2 separate regions of the Homo sapiens genome follow, and region 2 is linked to region 1. Evidence: fine-mapped expression QTL. A gene starts in region 1. The other region holds a variant in brackets. All regions are shown on one strand. Distances are from middle to middle. Region 1 holds the start of RAB3D (RAB3D, member RAS oncogene family). Region 2 has its middle 2.0 kb from the start of TSPAN16.

Evidence for each region. PIP is the estimated chance that this variant, and not a neighbour inherited with it, causes the effect.
Region 2: its variant is fine-mapped to the expression of RAB3D in whole blood (TOPMed, PIP above 0.99).

The regions. Positions count from the first base shown.
Region 1 is chr19:11,338,399-11,341,301 of GRCh38, forward strand. RAB3D (RAB3D, member RAS oncogene family) reads right to left here and starts at 1,259. Exons shown (of 5, transcript NM_004283.4): 1 at 1,071-1,259. RefSeq lists a silencer at 1,042-1,301.
Region 2 is chr19:11,292,717-11,295,619 of GRCh38, forward strand. No RefSeq gene overlaps it. Among named protein-coding and RNA genes, the nearest start is that of TSPAN16, 2.0 kb to the right of the region's middle. The variant A/G (reference allele first, on the strand shown) is at 1,112.

The DNA of each region.
Region 1 (2,903 bases):
GAGGACCTGCCAGCTGGATAAGCTGGATAGAGCCCCTGATTAAGGCTTGGGTGTTGACTTTGGCAGGTGTCAGCCACTGGGGCGCCTGCCGCCCACCAACTCATGCCAAATACAACCCCTTCTCTGAGTTCCAAGGGGAAGGGGTTTTCTATGTACAGGGCCCAGGTTTAGAGTCCAGTTCTACCCCCTAAATGGGTACTGCTATTTTCTATTTGTCAAAGGGGCCAGGCCTGTCTCCTTCTGCCCAAGGCTGACTCACTCCAGCCCCAGTCCACGGAGGCAGGAGTGAGAGTCCTTATACCCAAGGAAACGATCCCAGCCACTTAATTAACACAACCCCACCACCACGACCACTGCCGCCCACCCTTGGTCTTTCCAGGCAATCTGTCCCACGGCTAGGCTCCTTGAATCTGCCCACACTCCAACATGCTGCTTCATCCGAGTCCAAGGTGCTCCCTCAACCCTCATAACCTCTCCCAGGCCTCAGTTTCCCCAGCTGTCTATGGCCGCTGCGGGAACCGCACGGAGAGGCTGCAGAAGGCCTGGATGCAGGCGGGGCAGAGGCAGAGACAGCCCTGGCACAGCTATTTCTCAACTGCCTTTGGGGCTTTTTTCCATTTTAAACCAGGACCCAACCGGCCCCACCCCGTGTTCCAGGAGAACGAGTTTAAGGAGGGGAAGAGAAGAGGCAGGAAACCTTTCCCCACGCAGGGCAGGGCCGCAAGGCTGGGGCCCCCACCTCCCCCAGCCTTAGCTCACCTGTGTCAGTCGGTCCCGCCTCTTTCTAACCATCTGCCGACCCTCCCTCAAGCCTGGCCCCGGAGGGCTCGCCTCTGTTCCCCTTCACTAGATTTGGGGCGCCCCAGCCAATGCAGGTGGACTCAGGAGTTTCCCCCATCACCATATGGTCCCAACGCCTGTCCCCAGCTGGGCTCTCTGCCCCGCCCGCGCCCCATCAGCGCTTCCCAAGTGCCCAGCTGGGTGGGGGCGAGGGCAGAGGCGTTCCCCGCAGCCCCGCCTTTGTTCCCCAGACCCCCTACCTTCCTCCCAAACCCCCGTACCCCACAGACCTGCTCGGATGCGGAGGGGCCGGGTGGGCTGCGCTCCTTCCCAGGGGTGACCTCGCGTAGGGGGCGCCGCCTGCAGGGGTTCCGCCTGTGAACTCGCTGCGGCTTGGCCCTGGCCGCGACCCCGACCCCGCAGCCGCAGAAGCCAGCAGCCTGCAGCCACCCGGATCCCGCGCGGGCTCCGCCCAGAAGGCGGAGGAAGGGCCGTTCCCGGAGCGGGGGATGGGGGAGGACGAAGAGGGGCCGAGTCTTGGGCGGGGCTTTCAGAGAGCGGGTGGGAGGGGCTGGAAGCTGCACCAAGCGTCTAGAGCCCGTCCTAGCCAAGCAACATCTCATTTTCCCAGCTGCTTGTAAAGAGCTTCTACTATACGCACGGCTGTTAAAAGCATAGAGTCTTGGGCCTGGTTCGAGTCCCAGCTCCACCACTTTCTAGTCTTGTGGCTTTGGACGCGTTACTTAACCTCTTTGAGCCTCAGTTTCCCCATCCGTCAAGTAGCTCATAGCGAGAGTACCCAACCTCACAGAGTTGTGGGAGGATTCTGATCTGAGTTAGTGTTTGTCAAGTGCAGTGCCGGCCTTAAAGTAGGCTAGGCCAGGCGCGGTGGCCTGTAATTACAGCAGTTTGGGAGGCCGAGGCAGGAGAATCACTTGAGGCCAGGAGTTTGAGACCAGCTTGGGCATCGTAAGGAGACCTCATCTCTACTAAAAATAACAAAAATTAGCCAGGTGTGGTGGCGTGCGTCTGTAACCCCAGCTACTTGGGAGGCTGAGGCAGGAGGATTGCTGGAGACATCGAGGCTGCAGTGAGCCTTGATTGCACCACAGCACTCCAGCCTGGGCAACAGAGCAAGACCCTGTTTCAAATAAATAAAAATAAACGAGAGCTGGGCGCGGTGGCTTATGCCTGTAATCCCAGTACTTTGGGAGGCCAAGGCAGGCGGATCACTTGAGGTCAGGAATTTAAGACCAGCCTGGCCAACATGGTGAAACCTCATCTCTACTAAAAAAAAAAAAAAAAAAATACAAATATTAGGGGCTGGGCACGGTGGCTCACACCTGTAATCTCAGCACTTTGGGAGGCCGAGGTGGGCAGATCACCTGAGGTCGGGAGTTCGAGACTAGCCTGGCCAACGTGAAGAAACCCTGTCTCTACTAAAAAATACAAAATTAGCCAGGCGTGGTGACGCATGCCTGTAATCCCAGTTACTCTGGAAGCTGAGGCAGGAGAATTGCTTGAACCCGGAAGGCGGAGGTTGCAGTGAGCCGAGATCACGCCACTGCACTCCAGCCTGGGCAAAAAGAGCGAAACTCTGTCTCAAATAAATAAATAAATATACAAAAATTAGCCGAGCATGGTGGTGCACACCTGTAATCCCAACTACTTGGGAGGCTGAGGCAGGAGAATCGCTTGAACCCAGGAGGTGGAGGTTGCAGTGAGCCGAGATCGCGCCACTGCACTCCAGCCTAGACGATGGAGTGAGACTCTGTCTCAAAAAAAAAAAAAAAAAAATTAAAAAATAAATGAGGCTGGGCACAGTGTCTGATGCCTGTAATCCCAGCCCTTTGGGAGGCTGAGGCAGGAGGATTCCTTGAGCTCAGGAGTTCAAGGCCAGCCTAGGCAACATAGAGATCCCAACTCTACAAAAAATTTTTTTGAAAATTAGCTGGCCACAAAAAAAAAAAAAAAAAAAAAAAGAAAAAGAAAAAAAGAAAAAAGAAAAAAAAATTAGCTGACCATGGGGGCACATACATGTAGTCTTAGCTACTCCGGAGGCTGAGGCAGGGGGATTGCTTGAGCCTGGGAGAGAGAGAGGCTTCAGTAGGTTATGACTGTGC
Region 2 (2,903 bases), 46 kb before region 1:
GCACTTTGGGAGGCCGAGGGGGGTGGATCACTTGAGATCAGGAGTTTGAGACCAGCCTGGCCAACGTGGTGAAACCCCATCTCTACTAAAAATACAAAAATTAGCCGGGCGTGGTGGCGTTGCGCCTATAATCCCAGCTACTCAGGATCCTGAGGCAGGAGAATTGCTTGAGCCTGGGAGGCAGAGGTTGCAGTGAGCCGAAATCGCACCACTGCACTCCAGCCTGGGCAACAGAGAAAGACTCCGTCTGAAAATTAAAAAAAAAAAAAAAAAAGAGGAGAGTTTGTTGACTAATATGGGTCGTTGACATAAATATTCTGTGTGTGATTGTATTCAACACATTTCATTTTTTGGTTGTGATTTTTTTTTTTTTTTTTTTTTTTTGAGACGGAATCTCGCTCTGTCGCCCAGGCTGGAGGGCAGTGGCGCGATCTCGGCTCACTGCAAGCTCCACCTCCCGGGTTCACACCATTCTTCTGCCTCAGCCTCCCGAGTAGCTGGGACTACAGGCGCCCGCCACCACGCCCAGCTATTTTTTTTTGTATTTTTTTTAGTGGAGACGGGGTTTCACCGTGTTAGCCAGGATGGTCTCGATCTCCTGACCTTGTGATCCGCCCGTCTCGGTCTCCCAAAGTGCTGGCATTACAGGCGTGAGCCACCGCGCCCGGCTGGTTAATTGTGCTTTTTAAAAAATATCTCCCATCCCCATAAATATGTACACCTACTATGTGCCCACATAATTAAAAATTAAACAATTTTAATCCCCTAAAAATAAAAAAGGAGACCAAGCATGTGGAGAAATAAATGTCTCAACACACCATAAGGGTGTATTGGAGTGGCCCTTCTATGATTTTGACAATGATATTAAACGTCCTGGCCGGGCGCGGTGGCTCATCCCTGTAATCCCAGCATTTTAGGAGGCCGAGGCAGGAGGATGGCTTGAACCTAGGACTTAGAGGTCAGCCCAGGCAACATAGCGAGACCGCGTCTCTACAAAAAAAAAAAAAAAAAAAAAAAGCAAGTATCTTGCATTTGCAATTCGTCGGATGCCTGCAAAGTTCCGTGGGTGTGTGATGTAGGAATCTGGGGCACGGGAAGTTATTCTTGCTTC[A/G]TTTCCTGACGCTGACCGGCTGGGCGGGGTCCCTGGGGCACCCGGGCACATTTGGACGTGTTTGGCAGGGAGAGTCCTGGCCCAGCCCCGGCACGTAGGGCCGCGCTTCCACGGGCCGCCGCCAGGAGACGCGCGAGGCTGTAGATGCGGCTTTGCAGAGAAGCTGGGAGGGTAGAGGGGCTGGGGCGGTCGAGGGGCGGGGCTGCGTGCAGCCGGCCCAGATTCCTTTCCGGCCAGTTCCTTCCAGGAGCTGCTCCCACGTCTACAGCGCCGTCTGCTACTCACCCAGCTCTCTTGTATCTGAGCCTCATTTTCCCACCGTCCTTTAAGCCCGTTTTCCCACTGCTCATTTGCAGCCAAGTTTCCATCTCGCATCTTTGCGTCCCCCTTCTCTGCACCCTCCTTTGCACCCCCATTTTCCTGCTTTCCCTTGAGTCCACATTTCCCAGACCTCCTTTGCCCCCTACATTTTCCAATGCTCTCTTGCATGCCCATTTATCACCCTCTTTTGTGCCCCCATTTCCAGGCCCTCAGCCCCTGGTTCTGAGGTTCCTTACTTCAAATGACCTTTTTTTTTTTTTTTTTTTTTTCCTGAAACGGAGGAGTCTCCCTCTGTCTCCCGGGCTGGAGTGCAGTGATGTGGTCTCGGCTCACTGCAACCTCCGCCTCCCGGGTTCAAGAGATTCTCCTGCCTCAGCCTCCCGAGTAGCTGGGACTGCAGGCACCCGCCACCACAACCGGCTAATTTTTTGTATTTTTAGTAGAGACAGGGTTTCACTGCATTAGCCAGGATGGTCTCGATCTCCTGACCTCGTGATCTACCCACCTCGGCCTCCCAAAGTGCTGGGATTACTGGCGTGAGCCACCGCGCCTGGCTTCAAATGACCTCTTAAATAAAGGTGTGGAAGGACACACTCCTGGCTGTGAACAGCACCCGTGGTCCAGGAGGAGACAGCACTCCTCTGTGAACATCTTGCTTAGTTCTACATGTTCCAAGAAGCAGGCGATTTGACAGACATTCATTAAATTAATTAAAGTGTAAGGTATTTTCTCCCATTTGAACCATCCGCCTTCCCCCAATCCATGCAGGACCTGGACCCAGACACACCCCAGCCCAGGGCTGGACAGAGAGGGGATCGGGGTGGGGCAATGTGAAGCTGCTATGGTTAGGGTGGGGAGGTATGGGGGCAAAGTGGGCTACAGACTGCAGGATCTAGGCCTGGAGGTCTTCAGTGCTGACATACAGAAGGTTTTTGGTCCTGAAATGCTAACTACATCTATCACCATGGAGAAAAGCCCAATGACCTGCTACTTGGGAGGCTAAGGTGGGAGGATCACTTGAGCCAGGGAGGTCGTGGCTGCAGTAAGCCATGATCACACCACTGCACTCCAGCCTGGGCAATGGAGCAAGATCCTGTCTCAAAAGAAAAAAACCCAGTGACCAATGGCTCACAGTTCCAGGACTCTCTGCCTTACAGGTTCCTGCCCTCATGTTACTCTTGGGGCTTCAAAGCCTGGTCTTGCTTCCTGTGTGGCCTCAGGCAGTTCCCTTGGCCTCTCTGAGCCCTGTATGAAGGATGGGCCAAGTATGGGCTTGGGCTTGGGAGGCCCGGTGGCTTGTAGCTAGATTTCTGCATCACAGAGCCTCTGGATCCATTCATTCATTCTCCGCGGGTTTCTTAAGTACTGCAGTGCCAGGCTTTGGGGACACAGCTGTTTTTGTTTTTGTTTTGTTTTGTTTGAGACAGAGTCTCACTCCGTCAACCAGGCTGGAGTGGAATGGCACGACCTC